3 separate regions of the Homo sapiens genome follow, and all the other regions are linked to region 1. Evidence: fine-mapped expression QTL. A gene starts in region 1. Each other region holds a variant in brackets. All regions are shown on one strand. Distances are between the middles of the regions.

The links.
Region 2: its variant is fine-mapped to the expression of DRC9 in visceral fat (GTEx, PIP 0.91).
Region 3: its variant is fine-mapped to the expression of DRC9 in whole blood (TOPMed, PIP above 0.99). The same link has a PIP of 0.9 or more in esophagus mucosa and spleen.

What each region holds. Positions count from the first base shown.
Region 1 is chr3:197,957,286-197,964,481 of GRCh38, forward strand. DRC9 (dynein regulatory complex subunit 9) reads right to left here and starts at 2,706. Exons shown (of 12, transcript NM_032263.5): 1 at 2,560-2,706; 2 at 2,244-2,434. LMLN (leishmanolysin like peptidase) reads left to right here and starts at 2,932. Exons shown (of 17, transcript NM_001136049.3): 1 at 2,932-3,155. The coding sequence starts at 2,961. RefSeq lists an enhancer at 1,709-2,209 and a silencer at 2,761-2,990.
Region 2 is chr3:197,871,908-197,879,103 of GRCh38, forward strand. It overlaps LRCH3 (leucine rich repeats and calponin homology domain containing 3), which reads left to right. Exons shown (of 21, transcript NM_001365715.1): 20 at 3,791-3,868. Among named protein-coding and RNA genes, the nearest start is that of RPL35A, 75 kb to the right of the region's middle. The variant T/C (reference allele first, on the strand shown) is at 3,168.
Region 3 is chr3:197,909,361-197,916,556 of GRCh38, forward strand. It overlaps DRC9 (dynein regulatory complex subunit 9), which reads right to left. Exons shown (of 12, transcript NM_032263.5): 8 at 4,521-4,682; 9 at 3,315-3,389. LOC124906330 (a long non-coding RNA gene) reads left to right here. Exons shown (of 2, transcript XR_007096246.1): 2 at 1-971. Among named protein-coding and RNA genes, the nearest start is that of RPL35A, 37 kb to the right of the region's middle. RefSeq lists enhancers at 3,271-4,470, 3,854-4,485. The variant C/G (reference allele first, on the strand shown) is at 3,596.

The sequences.
Region 1 (7,196 bases):
AAAGCAAGACGCCCTCCCCCAGAGGTCCCTCTGTCACACTGGCAGTTCTAAGAAAGGTTTGGTCAGTCCAATGGTGGTATGCAAGCCAAAGCTGCCATTGTTGGAGTCCCGTGCTTCGTGGACATGGGCTTGTGTTAGTACTCTGCCAGGCTCATTTATTAGGATTGTGGTGGTTTTTTTTTTTTTTTTTTTGAGACAGTCTTGCTCTGTCGTCTAGGCTGGAGTGCAGTGGCGCAATCTTGGCTCACTGCACGCTCCGCCTCCCGGGTTCACGCCATTCTGTCTCAGCCTCCCAGGATTGTGGTTTTAAGGCAAACAAAGTGCACTGATGCTGTATTCACCAGAAGTGAGCAGTACTTCAAGGCCGGAAGTTGGAAGTTGTATATTAGAATGCTAATGAAATTGAACTTGGGAATTACGCAGTCAGCGCGAGGAAGTGCTGATCTTGGACACCCACTCCAAAAGGCCAACATAAGCTAAAAGTACCTACTGTGTTCATTGTGCCAGTTAAGTAGATGTGATCAGTAGTACTCGGGGTATTCAGGGATAGAGGCATGTAGGTATACTGGCTGCGTAACATAAAACCGTAAAGTGTAGAGGAAGAAATAGGGCGGCATCTCAAAGAGGAAATGGCAGGAAGATTTTAGGAACACAAGTGGCTGACTGGAAAGTCCAGAAAACTAAAATGCCACATGAGAGGTCTCCTGTACTGAACTGAGGATCTTAGGCTTAAGATTGTTCTTGAGTGTAATACAACGTCACTGAAGAACTTGATTCACAGGAAATTTTAAAATTTACTCATTTGAGACAGGGTTTCTGTTGCCCAGCCTGTAGTGCAGTGGTGTGATCATAGCTCACTGCACCTTTGAACTTCTAGGCTCAGACAATCCCCTGCCCACAACCTCCAGAGAATCTGGTGCATGCCAGGCACGTCCAGCCAATTAAAATGTTTTTTCGGGGTCCCAGGCTGGTCTCGATTCCTGGCCTCAAGTGATCCCCCTGCCTTGTTCTCCTAAAGTACTGGGATTACAGATATGAGCCACCAGCTCAGATTATTTCAAATCCCAATGGCATCCCAGCATAAACAAGGGAAAATTAGGTGGGCTTTTCAGTCTCAAATGGAGAATTCTAACATGTTTCTGGCTTTGGGGGCTGGATGGATAATGGTGCATTTACAAAGTTGGGGAATCAGGAGATGGTTTTGTGGGAGGAGCTAAAGTTGAATTTGAGGAAGCTGTAAGATGTTAACCTGTGGACATATCCATGAAGACAGATGGGTATTTCAGGTCTGGGTTAGGCATATGGAGAAGTGGATGGTATTCTGAGTGGAACAGACACACGGTAAGTGGTAGGCATCTGAGCAAAGCGGGGGAAAACAAACGGTTGAGACTTTAACTCGAGTAACTTACATGTGCAATGGCAAATGAGACTCAAAAGCAAATACATGCTCTTCCTTACTGAGATGATGCAGCATTTGTAAATAATAAATGTATGTTTTTATGTTTTTCTCCTCCCATATGGAAATTAAGTCAAAAGTACTCAAGTCACCGTTGCCAAAGGAGGAGTCCTGTGGTTTACAGGAAAGGGCTTGCGTGGCTGGTAACTTGTCCACTACACCATTGAAACAGCTTTGCCTCCTGGCTGGGCGCGGTGGCTCACGCCTGTAATCCCAACACTTTGGGAGGCGGAGGCGGGCGGATCACCTGAGGTCATGAGGTTGAGACCAGCCTGGCCAACGTGGTGAAACTACGTCTCTACTAAAAACATAAAAATTGGCCGGGCGTGGTGGCGGGTGCCTGTAATCCCGGCTACTCGGGAGGCTGAGGCAGGGGAATAGCTTGATCCCGGGAGGCAGAGGTTGCATTGAGCCGAGATTGTGTCACTGCACTCCAGCCTGGGCGACGAGTGAAACTCCGTCTCAAAAAAAAAAGAAACAGCCTTTCCTCAGCATAACACTATTGTTACAGCCAGGAGCTTAGGATGACTGGTTCCATTCTTTATTCACAATAGCAATTTATTTGTGGTATTGTAGTGGAAAGGGCACGTTTCCTAAGTTACAAATGTGGTTTGGAATCCCACCTTCCACTAGTTGTGGGATGATACACACATTTAGTGAGTATTTACTTGTAAAATGGTAATACTTAAAACACCACCCCATCCTCGTAGCTGAATCTCCACCCATAGTTTGTAACTTGAGGTTTTCCTTCTTTCCTACTCCTTCATTTCCCAGTATAGTAGCTTACCTATTCAATTCCCGTTGAATGACTTCCAGCTCAGTGAGTTCGTAATTTTACTTCTTAGTGTCATGAGCCACTGGGATTTGTCCCAATTTCCCATTTTGTATAGTTCCTCACGGCTCAGTTTCGAAGGCAAGGTTTCCTTAATGGCCAGGATCCCCCTTATCTCAGGTGCAGTGGCAATTCTTGGCTGGAAACTAAAAGATGGAGTTGAGTAAAACAGTAAACGGTGTATCATAGATTTTTATAGGAAATGGCGTTAGTTAAGTAATGGGCCTAAAGTTGGTGACTCAGGATAAGTAAATGAAAGTATTCCACTCACCTTTTCATACAGAGGACTACACTGAAAGATTTTGCAGAGGGTTGTATGTACGTCTAAACACCTGGCACCTAGTAGGTGCATGTCACTTTGGTAAATGAAAGAACTGAAAAACTGCCTCAAGACACCCACATACGGCCAACGCCCGCTAGCCTTTCTTCCTCCCACAGCCCCACTCACGTGGGCCTCCAAACAGCATTTATTGGCCGGCTTCGCGCCACGAGACGCGATGGACGTGATCGCCGCCCTCATCTTCTGCGGCGAACTTCTAGCGGGTGACGCTGTCCAATCGGAAAGCGCCTTTCCGCCGGCTGGGCCCTCCGTCTACCCCCAGCGGCGAGGGGCGGGGCCGGCGCGGGCGCAGAGGCGTCACGCACTCCATGGTAACGACGCTCGGCCCGAAGATGGCGGCCGAATGGGGCGGAGGAGTGGGTTACTCGGGCTCAGGCCCGGGCCGGAGCCGGTGGCGCTGGAGCGGGTCTGTGTGGGTCCGAAGCGTTTTACTCCTGTTGGGCGGGCTCCGGGCCAGCGCCACATCTACTCCCGTCTCCTTGGGCAGTTCCCCTCCCTGCCGGCACCACGTCCCCTCTGACACTGAGGTAGGGCGACATGGGCGGGAGCGGGCCCTCTCAGGGTAAAGTCACCCAGAAGGAGCAGGCGTAGGAGATAGTGACTGGGAGAAGGTGTCCTGGATGAGAAAGCGAAATTGGGGCAGAGCCTGACTCTTACAGGCCTGGGACCCGCTCTCAGCTCCCTACACCCTGCAAGTTGGCTGTTAGGCGCTCAGAACAGTATCACTTCTGTGCGGAGGGTTGTGCTTAGCAGTAGCCCTCGAGGAGTGGTTTTCAAACTTGAGCGTGCATCACAGTCACCCGACGCACATGGTACAACACGGATTGCCGCCCTCAGTCCCCCACTTAGTGACTCAGTAGGTCTGGGATGAGTCCCCAGAGTTGACAGTTTACGTTCCCAGCTGGTTGGTGAGATATGCTTGTCCGGGGACCACTTTAGGAACCGCTGACCTGAAGTTTCGGGAAGACATTGAACGGAGAGCCAGATAGAGGCGTTGGTGGGACGTTGGGGGCTCACTGGAGACAAAATTCAGGTTTCTTTTCACGTTATGTCGTCACTTTGTTTGCTTTACCCGGTTCCTCTGCTCTGGAAGTGCCTGCCCGCCTCCCATCCCATTTTTCTCTCTGCTTAAATTCTTTGTCTCATTTCAAATTCCCTAACCTCAAGGCAGCCTGCTGAAACCACCACAGCGCAATATTCTTTTCATTAAAAAGTACATCGTGTCTGTACTCCCTCCTGGCATTTAACCAAGTACTGCTATGGGATAATGGCTTATTTTTTAGGCGTATCTTGCCTTTGCAGTTAGATTATAAGGTTCCGTGGGATAAGGTTTGTGTTTCATACTTTGATTCCTTCACAGTATTTAGGTCAGAGGTGGGTCCACGATAATCCATATTCTTTGAGAAAGGGAGAGTACCTGGGGCAGGGCTGCATGCTGATACACCTACACATGTTCAATTCAGCCCAGAAATCTAAAGACACTCATTTTTATGGTAATTTCCCAAAATGTTACATGCATACTCTTCATAACCAAGTGAGCCAAAATATTAACTTCGGAGTTTATAGCTTTTTTGCAGCTTTTATCATGCTGCATTTTCGCTGAATTCTTTAAAAAAAATTTCCCACAAAACCCTGCACTTCTCTCTTTTAATTTGGATTAAAATAAGAGAAAGAGTCCTGGTCCCTAATACGTTTCGCTAGTTCCTCATAGAGTATATAAATACCCTGTCGTCCTCACTATTCTCCTTGTTTTAACCTGGACACGGAGTATAGCCAGGAGCTACAGTGTTCACTGTAGTTACGCTAATGACTATACCTCTGTTCAATGCTACAGGAAATTACATAACTTTTTTGGTTTTGGTGGTGTTGGGGAGCTACAAAACAGTTTTACTTTTTAACTGGTTCTCAACTAAAGCCTGTAAGTTTTGTTTTTACCTTTTATTACGCCGGTACAAACAACATCAGAATAATTTAATGAACCCGCATGGACCCATCACCTAGCTTTAACACCTAGCTTTAAGGTTCCGCCATTCTTGTTTCATATACTTTCAGCCATTCCGCAGCCCCCTACTTGAGTTACTGTTCTTTTGAAGTTTTTTGGTAAAATTTACATATATTGAAATGCCACAAATGTATCCATGCACATCCACATAAAGCATACAACCCATCACAACATAGAACGTTCCCACATCTCCAGACGTTCCCTCCTGTCCTGTGCCAGTCTCCTGCCCACCCCAGGCAACTAGTTTTCTAATTGTTTTTTTTTTAAATACTAGATTAGTTTGGCCAATTCTAGAGCTTCGTGTATTGAATGGAATTATATGGTATGTACTCCTCTGTATTTGGCATCTGCTCAGCATTATGTCTGTGAGATTCGTGTTGTATGTGATAGTAATTTATTCCTTTGAATTGCTGAGTATTCCATTGAATACTTATATCACAATTTGTTTTTCCGTTATCTTGTTCAAAGATGGGTATTTTGGTTTCTTCCAGATTTTAGCTATTATAAATAAAGCTGCTGTCAATATTCTTGTACAGTAATTTTTGTGGATATATGTTTTCATTGTTCTTGGATAAATACCTAGGGGTGAAATTACTGGGTCAAGGGTAGGTGAATGTTTATAAAAAATACTAACCCTTTCTCCAAAATACTCTACCATTTTACACCCCCATCAACAAAATATTAGTTATGGTTGCTGCATATCCTCACCAACAGATGTCCTTTCTAAGAAATCTTTAAATACCCCCTAGGTCATAAAAATATTCTCCTGTGTTCTAGAAGCCTTCACTTTTAGGATTATGATTCATCTGAAATTAATTTTTATATATGATGTGAGATAGGGGATCAATATCCTTTTTTTTTTTTTTTGCCCCATATGGGTATTCAGTTGCCTGGATTATGTACCTCTGTAATAAATATTGAAATCAGACAGTATTGTTATTGTAAGCATTCCTGCTTTGTTCTTCCTTTTCAAAATGATTTTGGCTATTTTAAGGCTTTTATATTTCCATATAAATTTATTTATTTTTTGGCAGGGGGAGGCTCAAAGACAGATCCATATAAATTTTAGAGTCAGCTTCTCAGTTTCTTCAAAAAAGCCTGATGGGTTTATGATTGGGATTGCATTTACTCTATAGATGATTTGGAGATAATTGACATCTAACAGTATCAAGTCTTTCAATCCATGAACATAATGTATGTTTCTCCATTTATTGAGGTGATGCATAATTTTTCTCAGCAAAAATGTATAGATCTTGCATTTTTTCTTCTGTTTTCTTTTCTCTCTCTTTTTTTTTTTTGTTTTGTTTTGAGACAGTCTTGCTCTGTCACTCAGGCTGGAGTGCAGTGGCAGAATCATAGCTCACAGCAGGCTTGAACTCCTGGGCTCAAATGATCCTTCTGCCTTAATCTCCCAAGTAGCTGGGACTCCCAAGTATGCGCCACTACACTTGGCTAATTTTTTATTTTTTGTTGAGACAGAGTCCAGGTGGGTTTTGAACTCCTGGCCTTAGGCGATCCTCCTGCCTCGACCTCCCAAAGTGCCAGGATTACAGGCATGAGCCGCCGTGCCCAGCCAGATCTTGCATGTTTTTTGTTAAATGTTTTCCTAAGTCTTTTATTTTTTGATGCCATTGTCAGTGGAATTATGGTTAAAGTTTTCCAGTTGTTTGCTGCTAGTATGTAAAAATACACTGCTAGTAGGTAGAAATAATTTTTGTATATTAACCTTGTCTTCTGAGACCTAGCTAAACTTATTTATTCTACTAGGGTTTCCTCCCTTACAATTTTTGATGTTAGCAATGTATTAACTATAAATAGGAACAATTTTTGTTGTTGTAGTTTTGTATCATTTATGTATTTTTTCCCCCTTATTGCTCTGGTGAGGACAGGCAGTTCCAGGCTGAGCAAAAGTGAGATAGCACGCCTCCTTGCCATTTGTTCCTGATCTTAGGACCAGTCTCTGACCATTAAGTATGATGTTAACTTTACATTTTTTTGTAGTTCCCTTTATCAGATTGAGAAAGCTCCCTTTGGTTTCTGGTTTCCCGAGGGTTTTTATCCTGAATGGGGACAAATTTTGTCAAATGCTTTTTGTTTTTTCTGGTAATTATTGAGATAATCATATAGTTTCTCACTTTATGAACTGTTATGTGGTAGATTACATTGCATTTTCCAATAGTAAATCAACGTTGCTTTTTTGGGATAAACCTTACTTGGTCATGTTGGCTTTGGTAATTTTCTTTAATGTTTGTTTCTATTTCATTGTTTTCTGTTCTTTGTTATTTCCTTTTTCTACTTATTGTGGATTTAGTTTGCTCATATTGTTAGGCGGAAACTTAGATGACTGTTTTTTAACCTTTTTTTCCTTCTAATGTAAACATTCAAAGATATAAATTTCTAAGTACAACTTTAGCTGCTCTTCACAAATTTTGACACTTTGCATTTTAATTATCATTTAGGTTAAAATTTTTTTTTTGTTTTTTGTTTTTTGTTTTTTTTTTTTGAGACAGAGTCTTGCTCTGTTGCCCAGGCTGGAGTGCAGTGGCGCAATCTCAGCAGAGCAACC
Region 2 (7,196 bases), 85 kb before region 1:
GTTGTAATACAAATGGTAAGGGGTAAGGCTAGAGACGTGAGCTGGGGCCGTGGTACAAAGGCCTTATGAACCGTGTGAAGGACGTTTACCCTAGTACAGACAATGAGGATACACTGAATTAAAGAGGGAATACCATGATTCTAACTGCAGTTTAGAATGACGAATCTAGGCTGGGCGCGGTGGCTCATGCTTATAATCTTTGCAATTTGGGAGGCCGAGGCAGACGATTGCTTGAGCCCAGGAGTTTGAGACCAGCCAGGACAATATGGCAAAACCCCGTCTCTACCAAAAATACAAAAATCAGCTGGGTATGGTGGCATGTGCCTATAGTCCCAGCTACTCAGGAGGCTGATGTGGGAGGATCACTTGAGCCCAGGAGTTCGAGGCTGCAGTGAGCCGTGATTGTGCCAGTGCACTCCAGCCTAGGTGAGAGAGCAAGACCCTGTCTCAAAGAAAAAAAAAAAAAAAAAAAAGGAATGATGAATCTAGGTGCTAAGTGAGAAATGGAAAAATTAAAGGTGGTACACTACAAAGATGCCCAAGCCAGGCTCAGTGGCTTGTGCCTGTAGTCCCAGCTACTTGGGAGCCTGAGGCATGAGGATCCTATGAGCCCAGGAGTTTGAGACCAGCTTGGGTGATCTTGTTTCTTAAAAGAAAAAGGAAAAGAGACTGGGTGCACTGGCTTACGCCTATAATCCCAGCGTTTTGGGAGCCCGAGGCTGGTGGATCACCTGAGGTCAGGAGTTCGAGACCAGCCTGGCCAACATGGTGAAACCCCAACTCTACTAAAAATACAAAATTAGCCAGGAGTGGTTCATACATCTGTAATCCCAGCTACTTGGGAGGCTGAGCCAGGAGAATCACTTGAACCCAGGAGGCGGAGCTTGCAGTGAGCTGAGATCGCACCACTGCACTCCAGCCTGGGCAAGACAGAGCGAGACTCTGTCTCAAAAGAAAAAAAGGGAAAAGAAAAGAAAGATGCCCAATTAAAAGGCTGTTGTATTAGTCCAGGCCAGGAAGATAACAAGCCGGGACTAAAGCCTGGACTAACTGGGCAGTGAGAGGGAAGATGGTTCAAAGGTAAAACTGACATGATCTGTGACCGACCTCAGGTGGAAGATGAGGGAGAAAATGCATTCAGGATAACTGGCAGGTTCTCTTTGCACTGCTGGTCAGGTCTGGGCATCAGTTTCAGGATGGCAGTCCACAAAAGAACAGGCTTTGGGTTGACACACCCCTCCTCTGTTTTCCTCACATTTTTATCATGAAAAATTTCAACCTTCAGAAAAGTGGAAAGAATCCTACAACGAACACTATTAAAGTCTGCACCTAGATCTGACGTTTCTTGCATTTTGCCGCACTTGCTTTATGTATCTATATTTGTATGTGTATTTTAACTACACCATCCAAAACTTACAGATGTAATATACTTTTCCCCCAGTGTGTTTCAGGGACCTGTCCTAGGCCACCTTGCTCTTCCCTTAAGCCCATAGCCAGTGACGGACAAGCATGGGGCTGAGCCCTCCTACCTCAAGGAGGGAGTGTCGTGTGGTTCACACTTGTGAGCTCCCTGTGGGATCAAGCTGAAGCTGAGAAGGAGACAAGCAGGAGGATCACCTGTGGCTGGGAGTTTAAGACCAGCCTGGGCAATATAGTGAGATCCCATCTCTACAAAAATACTTAAAAAAATTAGGCGTGCACCTGCTACTCAGGAAGCTGTGGCGGGAGGATCACTTGGGCCCAGGAGTTTGAGGCTGCAGTGAGCCACGATCATGCCACTGCACAACAACCTGGGCAACAGAGCGAGACCCTGACCCTAAAAAAGAAAGAAAGGGCCAGGCACAGTGGCTCTTGCCTGTAATCCCAGCACTTTGGGAGGCCCAGGTGGGCAGATCACGAGGTCAGGAGTTCGAGACCATCCTGGCCAACATGATGAAACCCCATCTCTACTAAAAATACAAAAATTAGCTGTGCATGGTGGTGCACACCTGTAGTCCCAGCTACTTGGGAGGCAGAAGCAGGAGAATCACTTGAGTCCAAGAGACGGAGGTTGCAGTGAGCCAAGATAGCACCACCACACTCCAGCCTGGCGACAGAGTGAGACTCTGTCTCAAAAGAAAAAAAAAAAAAAAAAAGACTGAAAGGAAATGAATCAAGTGTTGTAGTTACATTTAAATGATGAACTATGGGTAATTAATTTTTTTGGCTGTTCCTCCAAGTTTTCTTTAGTGCAGGGGTCCCCAACCCCTGGGCCACAAATGGGTACCAGTCTGTGGCCTGTTAGGAACTGGGCTGCACAGCAGGAGGTGAACAGGCCAGTGAGCAAAGCTTCATCTGTATTTACAGCCACTCCCCATTACTCACATCACCACCCGAGCTCTGCCTCCTGTCAGATCAGCAACAGTATTAGATCCTCAGAGGAGCATGAACGCTGGTGTGAACTGCGCATGCGAGGAAGGGATCTAGGCCACGGGCTCCTTATGAGAATCTAATGCCTGATGATCTGTCAGTGTCTCCCATCATCCCCAGATGGGACTGTCTAGTTGCAGGTAAACAAGCTCAGGGCTCCCACTGACTCTACATTACGGTAGATTTCATTATGTATGATTATTTCATTATATATTACAATGTAATAATAGAAATAAAATACACAATAAATGTAATGTGCCTGAATCAGCCTGAAACCATCCCCCCCAGCTCCAGCCCTGTCCATGGAAAAATTGTCTTCTGTGAAACCAGTCCCTGGTGCCAAAAAGGTTGAGGACTGCTGCCTTAGTGTTACACTGTTTTAAAATGGAAAAAAAAAGTTTGTAACTATTCGTTCAAAGTTTTTCTATTTAGTACTTGCCTTCCAAAATCAAAGCCAATGTCTCAAGTGTGGGGTGACAAAGTACTGCCCACAGGCCAGCACTTCTTCTTGTAAATCAAGTTTCACTGGAACCCAGTCACACTTTCTTGTTTGCATATTGTCTATAGTTGCTTTCAAGCTCCTGGCAGACTCGAGTGGTTGCAACAGTTCTTTTTTTTTTTTTGAAATGGAGCTTTGTTCTTGTTGCCCAGGCAGGAGTGCAATGGTGCGATCTCAGCTCCCCACAACCTCTGCCTCCCGGGTTCCCGGGTTCAAGTGATTCTCGTGCCTCAGCCTCCCGAGTAGCTGGGATTACAGG[T/C]GCCCGCCACCACACCTGGCTAATTTTTGTATTATTAGTAGAGACGGGGTTTCTCCATGTTCGTCAGGCTGGTCTCGAACTCCCGACCTGAGGTGATCCGCCCACCTCAGCCTCCCAAAGTGCTGGGATTATGGCGTGAGCCACCGCACCTGGCATTGCAACAGTTCTTATGGCCCTCAGAACTAACATTTATTATCTGATCCTTTAAAAAAAAGTTCGCTGACCCCCTAGTCTACAGCATTGAGAGTTATGAAGCGATTGCCAGGAGTATTTCTAAAGTTAGCAAATATTTTTTAATGTTGCTAGTAGGCTGGGCATTTAGCTGATGCCTCTGATCCCAGCACTTTGGGAGGCTGAGGCAGGCAGATTGCTTGAACTCAGGAATTCAAGACCAGCCTGGGCAACGTGGCGAACCCTGTCTCTACAAAAATTGCCCAGGTGTGATGGCATGCAACTATAGTCCCAGCTACTTGGGAGGCTGAGGTGGGAGGATCACCTGAGCCTGGGAGGTCAATGATACAGCGAGCCAGGCTTGCGCCACTGCACTCCAGCCTGGGTGGCAGTGAGACCCTGTCCCAGAAACAAAACTTCTCTAGTAACACATTTTCTTTTCCTCATTTCAGCCTAAATTAACAATGGCGAAATGCAGGCGAAATGTGGAAAATTTCCTAGAAGCTTGCAGAAAAATTGGTGTACCTCAGGTAATAAATTTATCATTTTTTATGTTGCCTAAATAGACTTGGTTGTCCTAAAATTTTAGAAATGTAAATCTCTAAAATCTTACAGGACTAGCTCTGAGCTAAGTCGATCATAATTAACATGACTTTGTGTTACAAGAGTCAGTGTACTTTTGAACAGTTTTCCTTGATTATTTCCAAGGACCACACAAAGAAATTATAAATATATAGATTGAAATAAGTATAAGTAATTTGAAATAATTATTCTATTTTCCTAAACTTTCCCACTTGCTATTTGACAACTAAATATATCCTTCAAAAACTAAGTATATCTCAGATTGAGAATGCTGCAGTTGGCTTCAGTGTTCTAACACTTGCTTTGATACTTTTTAAAATGTTTTAGACTTCCAGAAATGTTGAAAAAATAGCCTAGAGTTCCTTTTGTATACTTCAGTCAATTTCTTCTAATGTTAACTAACGTCTAATACAAACATAGGACAGTAATTCAAACTAAGTAACATGAGAACAATACGATTAACTGAATTACAGGCTTTATTTGGATTTCATCAGTTTTTCCATGAAGCTCTGGTTCTTTGGAGTCTGGCATGCAACAGGCCATTTCTAAGCTGTTGTCCTGCTATGAGGATTTATTGCCTCCAGCTCAGTTATAACTTTATTGCCCTTTAATATTACAAATAGTTAAATTTATTTATAGATGCGATTAAGGGAAATGAACTTGATACAGTCTTATCCAATAACCCCTTTAAAAAGCAATTATATTAAACCAACTAAGTATTATACTATTAAGGAATATTATGTGGTATAAAGACAAATTTAAAGAAATAAATGACTTGGTGCCATGTGATACTTTTTCATTAACCACGACCATTACAAGTCTTGTTAACATATTTTGTCTATAGCCTGCAAGGAGGAAAACATGATTCTTCTCTATCACCTTCTAATTAGGTATCAGTAACTCAGGGGTGGCCCTGGGGCTCATCAACAGCTCCACCATTGCTCTCAGAGTTTGGTTCCTGTTCCTGTAGCTTCCATGACAGTGATTCTCTTTACCCAACTCACCGCACCCATGGCAGTGATTCTCTTTACCCAACTCACCGCACCCATGACAGTGATTCTCTTTACCCAACTCACCGCACCCATGGCAGTGATTCTCTTTACCCAACTCACCGCACCCATGGCAGTGATTCTCTTTACCCAACTCACCGCACCCATGGCAGTGATTCTCTTTACCCAACTCACCGCACCCATGGCAGTGATTCTCTTTACCCAACTCACCGCACCCATGGCAGTGATTCTCTTTACCCAACTCACCGCACCCATGGCAGTGATTCTCTTTACCCAACTCACCGCACCCATGGCAGTGATTCTCTTTACCCAACTCACCGCACCCATGGCAGTGATTCTCTTTACCCAGTTCACCGCACCCATGGCAGTGATTCTCTTTACCCAACTCACCGCACCCATGGCAGTGATTCTCTTTACCCAACTCACCGCACCCATGGCAGTGATTCTCTTTACCCAGTTCACCGCACCCATGGCAGTGATTCTCTTTACCCAACTCACCGCACCCATGGCAGTGATTCTCTTTACCCAACTCACCGCACCCATGGCAGTGATTCTCTTTACCCAGTTCACCGCACCCATGGCAGTGATTCTCTTTACCCAACTCACCGCACCCATGGCAGTGATTCTCTTTACCCAACTCACCGCACCCATGGCAGTGATTCTCTTTACCCAACTCACCGCACCCATGGCAGTGATTCTCTTTACCCAACTCACCGCACCCATGACAGTGATTCTCTTTACCCAGTTCACCGCACCTCTTTCTAACTAGCCAGGAGTTGACTAGGCCACAGCATCACATGTTACAAAGTGAAAGAGAGAGCGCCCAGCTCCACAGATCATCTGTGTCAGCCAGCAGGATTCCCAGGATTGTTTTTCTCTTATGAAAGTAGATCATCATTCTATTATTTATTTTTTACTTTTTTCTTTTGCTGTTTTTTTTTTAACTGAATTATACAAGAATGGAAATTTACATAAAGTGGTAGTTAGCAAACACCTTTTTGATTCCTATGGACAAATTGAAAGCAAAATTTTCGTTTTTATATTATGTTGTTTTATAAAGGGTCATCTTTTAGAACAGACCTTTTTAAATATTTTGAGAGCACTGAATATGGTTTCTGAAGAAATAACATACATTCTTTTAAACAAGTTTATTCTAATAGTGCACATTAGCCTCCAGTTCTTCCCTTCTGCTTCCTAAAGAGGTTCTTGCTACACAAACATCCAGTGTCTGCTCTAGTTCCCTGCCACAGTGTCTTTAAACAAAGAGAGTATGGCATGGGTTGGTGCAGAGAATGGGAAATGCAAAATAGACAGGAGAGTGCTGAAAATGGCCCCACTCAAGCAAGTCATGTTGACTTACCAGATGTCAAAACCTGTTGAAAGGTCTAAGCCTGTCCGCGGGGCTTTCGGAAGCATCCTCTGAGGGTCTCTGAGATTTAAAGTCCGTACCTTGGAATTATTTCAGGATGTTCCCACCATCAGCCAACAAAGTACAAAACAGTGTGCCTTAAAATACACATTTAAGTTGGTATTTGCATGCAGTGGTTGACCATGTTTGTTATGGGCCAGCCTGCCCCTGTTCCTACCAGAGCTGTGCTGTTGGAAGGCAAGTACGAAGAAAAAAAAAATACAGTTTTAAAAGACTGGGTCTTTTTCCAGAGTGGTTAGGCTGAGGTTTTGATGCATCCTCCCTCCTTCTCCGTCACCAGAAAGAGGAAATGGACGTTCCCATAGGCTGCCCCTTCCTTCTCCCCTTCCACCTCCCACCCACGTCCCCACCACAACCACTGCCAGTTTTACACGGCTTCCTAGCAAGCTGCTACTTCTGCTGAAAAATTAGTCATCTGTCTAGAACAAAGTGAAAGAAAATGAATAAACGCACAAACTCGTAGGTTCAAACTAGCCTTCTGAGGTCCCTCTGCCAGAGGAAGAGAAGAAACTTCTACCTCCTCGTCTTCCTTTTTCTCCTGGTCTCCAGGTCATTCTGGCCTTTACTTAAACATCCCCACTTTGCTCTGTGTGACTTGAACATTGGGAATGTAATAATGACCACTTTTGAAAATGTAAAACAGAAAACAATATTACAAATATTTTTGTCAGATTCTATACCCAGGTAAGATAGATAAAGACAAATAATTTCCCTTCTCTGTGTAACTTTTAAAGTGTTGTACAAGTTAAAGTATGAGTGAAATACTGAAGAACAAGGCAGTTATTAAAAACCTCTGATGACATTGGGCATGTGGGTATTTGCTTTATTTTTATGCTT
Region 3 (7,196 bases), 48 kb before region 1:
ATGCAGTAAGATTTTCCACCTAGGAAATCCAAATGAATCCACTGAAAAACCATTAGAGGGTTTAACAAATCCACAGCAATACACAAAAGAAATACCTTTCCACATACCATACACTTAGAGACAGAACCAAGAAGGTTTCGCAATGTTATCACAGAAAAACCTGGAAACAACCTAAATCTACTGACAGAATGGTTCACTAAATTTCAGTATATTCTGAGTGTGAGATATATTCTATCAATCAGCTGTACTGCTACAGAAAACATTAAAAACAAAGTAAATGTAAGAAGAAAACAACAGGCTCTGGAACACTATATATAGCATGATCCAATTTACTTAAGAAACAAATACTAGGCCGGGTGCAGTGGCTCATGCCTGTAATCCCAGCACTTTGGGAGGCTGAGGCCAGCAGATCACTTGAGGGCAGGAGTTCAAGACCAGCCTGACCAACATGGTGAAACCCCATCTCTACCAAAAATACAAAAATTAGCCAGGTGTGGTGGCAGGTGCATGTAATCCCAGCTACTCGGGAGGCTGGCAGGAGAATCACTTGAACCTGGAGGCAGAGGTTGCAGTGAGCCGAGATCGCGCCATTGCACTCCAGCCTGGGCAACAGAGCAAGACTCCTCTCAAAAACAAAACAAAACAAAAAACCACCACTGAGAATAGGTATGTTTTTAGGTATAAGTATGTATATGAAAAGAAATACATGTGGAAGAAACTTCCCTTCAGAAAGGGGAGTAATTTAAGAGGGCTTTCACTTTCTTTAACCTATGTATTTCTGTCTGAAATTGTAGCTGGACGTGGTGGTGCACACCTGTAGTCCCAGCTACTCAGGAGGCTGAGGTGGGAGGATCACTTGGGCCCAGGAGTTTGAGGCTGCAGTGAGCTATGGTGGCACCACTGCACTGAAGCCTGGGAAACAGAGAGAGACCCTGTCCCTAAAAAATAAAAAATAAAAAAATATATACTTATGTATTGCTTGTGTTATTGGGCTGAAGATCTGGGAAACTCTGGCGTCATCCCTTCGTGATCCATTTATCTACCAACTCACTGATAAATATCCAACACCTGCCAGGTATCTCACACTTGAAACAGGTAACATGATACATAATTCTTAAAGTGCAGGGCTACAGAACCCTAATTCTAATAGCCTACCAGGTATTTTTTTCAGTAAAGACCTGCAAGAGAGCATCTACAAATTCTCCTCTTTAACCACACATTTGGAATCCTTGACTGAAAACTCATTAGCTTTTTCCAAAGGCAAGCTGTATTATAACTAAGCTGGAAAATTTTCTCTTTATTCATCCAATAGGGTTATTTTGAAAGACTCCAGCTGGGGCTGGGCACGGTGGCTCACGCCTGTAATCCCAGCACTTTGGGAGGCCGAGGCAGGTGGATTACCTGAGGTCAGGAGTTCTAGACCAGCCTGGTCAACACAGTGAAACCCCATCTCTACTAAAAATACAAAAATTAGCTGGACGTGCGCCTGTAATCCCAGCTACTCAGGAGGCTGAGGCAGGCGAATCGCTTGAGCCCAGGAGGCCGAGGTTGCAGTGAGCCAAGATCACGCCACTGCACTCCAGCCTGGGCAGTAAAGCAAGACTGCATCTCAAAAACAAAACAAAAAAAAAAAAAAAAAGAAAGAAAGACTCCAGGTAGACTTAGACATAATTCTAACCTTAGATATATTATAGACCCAGCTTGGTTATTAGTATTGAAAATGCTCTTAAAACCACCGTGTCATATATATTTCACACAAGAAGAAATAAATTGAGTAAACATGTGGAAAAATGTTATGTTCACCTGTTAATAAGCAAAAATAAAAAATAAAACAACTCATTAAATTAGCAGACTTTGAAAAATATTGAAAATGGCTACTAATATTGAAGAGACCTTGAAATTACTGCCTGCAACACTGCTAACGGCAGCACAGATTCGAGAGTATTAGCAATGTTTATTAAAAGTCACAAAATACTAGTCTCTGAAACAAAAATCTCATGACTGAGATTGGCTTTTAGTAAATAGTTGCCATGAAGAAAAACAGTTCTTTGGGCAAAGCTTTAATGAGTGCATTATTTATAATAACAAACTTTAGAAACAACCTAAATATAAAAAAAAAGTGTAACAAATAAACTGTGGCACAACCATTCAATGGAACGTTAAACACAATTTTCAATTATTTTATAAAGAAACTGTAATAACATAAAAAATGAAAAGCAATGAGTAATTTTAAAAATCTTCACTCAACTGGGAATGTTATTTTTATAGTGTAAAAGATTAGTAAATTTTTTTTTTTTTGAGACAGATTCTTGCTCTGTTGCCCAGGCTGGAGTGAGTGGCATGATCTCGGCTCACTGTAACCTCTGCCTCCTGGGTTCAAGCGATTCTATTGCCTCAGCCTTCTGAGTAGCTGGGATTACAGGCGCCCGCCACCATGCCTGGCTAATTTTTGTATTTTTAGTAGAGACGGGGTTTCTCCATGTTGGCCAGGCTGGTCTCGAACTCCTGACCTCAGGTGATCCGCTGGCCTCTGCCTCCCAAAGTGCTGGGATTACAGGCGTGAGCCACCATGTCCGGCCTTTATTTATTTTTCTTTTTTATTTATTGGCCACTATACTATTGGGAAAAATTTTTAAATATAGTCATAATTTAAAAATAATTAATTTAAAAATTATGTCTTTTTTTGGTTTTTGTTTTTGAGACGGGGTCTCGCTCTGTTGCCTAGGCTGGAGTACGGTGGCGTGATCTCAGCTCACTGCATCCTCTGCCTCCCAGGTTCAAGCAATTCTCCCACCTCAGCCTCCTGAATAGCTGGGATTACAGGCGCACCACCATGCCCGGCTAATTTTTGTATTTTTTAATAGAAACAGGGTTTCACCATATTGGTCAGGCTGGTCCCAAACTCCTGAACTCAGGTGATCCACCCTCCCCGGCCTCCCAAAGTGCTGGGATGACAGGCGTGAGCCACTGTGCCCAGCCCATAAATTTGTAGGTCATAATTTGACTTAATAAATTTTAAGTCATAAATTAAGTCATAATTTGAAAATTATGAGTATACAGCAATATAGAAATCGAAAAATTTCTTATGTAAGCTCAATGATAAAAGCAGAAAACAAAATTTTACCTGCACTCTCTCAAATTACAGCTATATAAGATATCTATTCAGATGCATAACCCTGAAAGAAAACATGAGCTAAAGTTCATTAGGCTGAAAGAATGATGGTTGGTTTTCCTTCAAAATATTCTTTTTGTTTCCTCAGTATAAGCAGAGTACAAAAAAAAAGTCAAAGCATAGAAAAGCTGTGGGGACCCACCTGCTGCTCCTTTCTAAGGAACATTTCAATCTCTGTATGAGTCCGGGCCTCTTCTTCGGTTTTCATCCTGAGTTTCTGTAAGAACAATCAGATACCAGTACGTCTTCCCCGCAGGGCTGGGAATCAGAAGTTCTCAAGATGAGAGCAGCAGCTCGGTCGGTAGCTGAGGCTCCCTTTACCAGCTGGGATCCCGGGCTTTCAGTTCCCTGCAACTCCTGTTCACCAACACTGCAGAGCCACGTGGCGCGGCACTGTGTGGACTGCGTGTGTCCCTAACGAGA[C/G]GAGCACAATCCCGTGAGCTGAACAGAGGTGCCCACTGAAGGACAGAAACGGCGCTCCAAGGGCACAAGGCTGTGGGGCTTAAAAAGGGGGATTCCGGAGTGCCAGGAAGAGTGTTGACGTGGCCTTGAGCCACGTCAGTCTCAGAGCGAGGAGTCCTCCCACACACAGATTCCACGGCCCAAGGACGTTTGTTCCTGCTTCCCTCTTCCCATCTGCCTGCTGCTCTTTCTTGTTTTCTTTTCTTTTTTGTGAGAAGGGAGTCTCCCTAGTTGAAGTCTGAAGTTGCCCAGGCTGGCTTCAAACTCAAGGATCCTCCTGCCTCACTGCCTCACCTCCGATTAGCTGGGACTAGTGCCTGGCTTTGCGTGTGTGCGTGCGTGCGTGCGTGCGTGTGTGCGTGCGTGCGTGTGTGCCATTTAGCATTCCCCTCAAAGAAGATCTACCACTTCTTTCTTCCTCCTGGCATTTTTCACCGTGACTTCTCATCCTATAAACTCAGGTTTGAACGAAGTTCAGCGCTCTCGATGCTGTATTTCTTACTGGAGGAGTGAAAGGTACTGGTTAGATGAAAGAAACAGCAGCAAAATCCTGCCATAACTAAGCACCTCGTTTTGCCCTCTCCCTATAATTAGTCAGAAAAATGGTGATTGGTTTGCCAAAATAAGAAGTGACCAAGGAGAGAAAGTGCAGCCAATTTTCAAAGTCATTATGAGGCGGGAGATGGAGGCTACAGCCCACTGGAATCTCTGCTTGCGAACACGCATATCCTCATTTAGGCTTTTATTTTCAACCTCAAGTGGAGGGGCTGTTGCCGATAGAGATGGAGGGAAATCTTTGTCTCCCTCCTTTGTTAGCTGAGAGGGGATCAGGAGTGACAGCTCAATTGCCATCTCCTGGGTTCTTGGCTAATGTCCCAGGGATTACCTCAATCTCTTCCACCAAGAGTTCCTCTGTTCTGTTACACTTTTTCTGGGTCTGGGCAATCTGCAGCTCGGTATTGGTTTTCATGTAGCGATTCTCCAAGTTGGATTTTGCCTTCATCTCTTGCAGTTGGTCCTTGAGGTTAGCAATATACTCATTCTGACTCTGTAGTGGAAAGACCAGGTTTCTAAATTGAAAATACATTCTACCTCCATTCAGTTCAGTCAGCGGCTTACGGTTCCCTTTTATGCGTATAAATCAATAAGGAACTGGAACTATTTTTCCGCTGTCACACAATGGGAAATTTAGCCAACAATCATGAAGTGTATAGATGAAAGTGAGTAACACAGCATTTCTAAGAATCAGGGCGCATCAGGGCTGTGAGATTAGTTCCCAGGCACATTATTGCTGTACTCCGTATGTCCCACACAGCTTTCTCATTTTGGTAGGAAGAACACTGGTCAAAATGATCAAAAGAACTGACTTCCCACCCAGGCCTCCAGCTGTGTGAACTTGGCCAAGTCAAATCTCCAACTTTTTACTTTCTATAAAACAAACACACAAACATACAAACACCCAACCTGCCTGAAGTATCTCAGAGAGTGATTATTAGGTTTCCTTGAGAACACGTGTGAAAACGCTTTCTTTTTGCAGGTCACCAAGTGCTTGGCAATTGTGAGGACTCAATAGTCATTAAGAAAAATATTTATTCAGCACCAGGCACTGAGCTAGGAAAATTGTGGAGATCTAAACAGACATATTCCCTTCCCTCATAGAGCTTACAGTCTAATAGAAGAGAGGTGGTTAAAAAGAGACAAACACATGTGTAAACTTCCAAAAATTGTGCAAAATGATAGAAAAGGAAGGCTCGAGAGGCTGTGGGAGGAAATAACAAGGGAGGAGTACATTAGACTCTGGAAGGTCTGAGAAGGACTCTCTCGGGAAAGCGATGGCTCATTCGATACCTGAAGGACAGGTAAGCCCACCACATGAAAAATAGGCTTGGCCAGGCACGGGGGCTCACGCCTGTAATCCCAGCACTTTGGGAGGCTGAGGCATGGCGACCAGCTGAGGTCAGCAGTTTGAGACCAGCCTGGCCAACATGGTGAAACCCCGTCTCTACTAAAAATACGAAAAATAGCTGGGAGTGGTGGCGGGCGCCTGTAATCCCAGCTACTCGGGAGGCTGAGGCAGAAGAATCACTTGAACCCGGGAGGTGGAGGTTGAAGTGAGCTGAGATCATGCCACTGCAGTCCAGCCTGGGTGATAGAGCGAGATTCTGTCTCAAAAAAAAAAAAAAAAAAGAAAAGAAAAAGAAAAAAAGGAAAGAAAAAGAAAAGAAAAATAGGGTTAAGGGAACTCTAAAAAAAAAAAAAAGAATAAGTATATGCCCAAATCCTGAAGCAATCAAGACCTGGATACATTCCAGGAACTGAAAGAAAGCTCCGGAGGCTCTAGCCTAGTGAGGGTTGAGGGGAGGACAGGATGAGGTTGGAGGTCGGTAAGGGCACCACACAGGACCCCGGAGACCCAACTGAGAAATTCAGATTTTATTCCAACTGTCATGGGAATCCTTGGAAAGCTTTTAGTCAGGGAGGTAACATTTGTTTGAAAAGAACTGTTTGGGCGGAATCAGTGTGTGAGTAAGTCCACAGGGAGGGGACCTGACGGCACAGCAAACAAGCACACGACTAGCAACAAAAGTGCTTCAACCCGAGACCTGCTCCTCTAGATACCAACCGCCTTTCTTCTCTTTTTACATTTTTTTTGAGATGGAGGCTCGCTCTTGTTGCCCAGGCTGGAGTGTAGTGGCATGATCTTGGCTTACTGCAAGCTCCACCTCCCAGGTTCAAGTGATCCTCCTGCCTCAGCCTTCTGAGTAGCTGGGATTACAGGTGCTCACCACCACACCCAGCTAATTTTGTATTTTTAGTAGAGATGGGGTTTCTCTACATTGGTCAGGATGGTCTTGATCTCCCGACCTCAGGTGATCCACCTGCCTCGGTCTCCCAAAGTGCTGGGATTACAGGCGTGAGCCACCACGCCTGGCCTCCAATTGCCTTTCGTCTTAACCATGTAAGTAGGGTAGAATTAGTTCTTTTGTATTAAAAAAATTTTTTTGTTTAGAGACAGGATCTCCCTCTGTCACTCAGGCTGGAGTGTAGTGGCTCGATCACAGCTCACTATAACCTCCAATTCCTGGGCTCAAGCCATCTTCCCAAGTAGCTAGTACTACAGGTGCATGTCACCATGCCTGGCTAACTTTTTAATATTTTTAGAGATGGGGGTCTCACTCTGTTGCCCAGGCTGGTCTCAAACTCTTGGCTTCAAGGGATCCTCCTGCCTTGGTCTCTCAAAGTGCTGGGATCACAGACATGAGCCACTGCGCCCGGCTTTGTTGTTGTTGTTGTTGTTGTTGTTTTTGAGACGGTCTTGTTCTGTCACTCAGGCTGAAGTGCAGTGGCATGATCACGGCTCACTGTAACTTTGACCTCCCAGGCTCAAGAAATCCTCCTGCCTCAGCCTACAGAGTAGTTGGGACTACAGGTGCATGACATCACACTCAGCTAATTATTATTATTATTGTAGAAACAGAGTCTCACTGTGTTGCCCAGGCTGGCCTCGAAACCCTGGGCTCAAATGATCCTCCCACCTCAGCCTCCCAACATGCTAGGATTA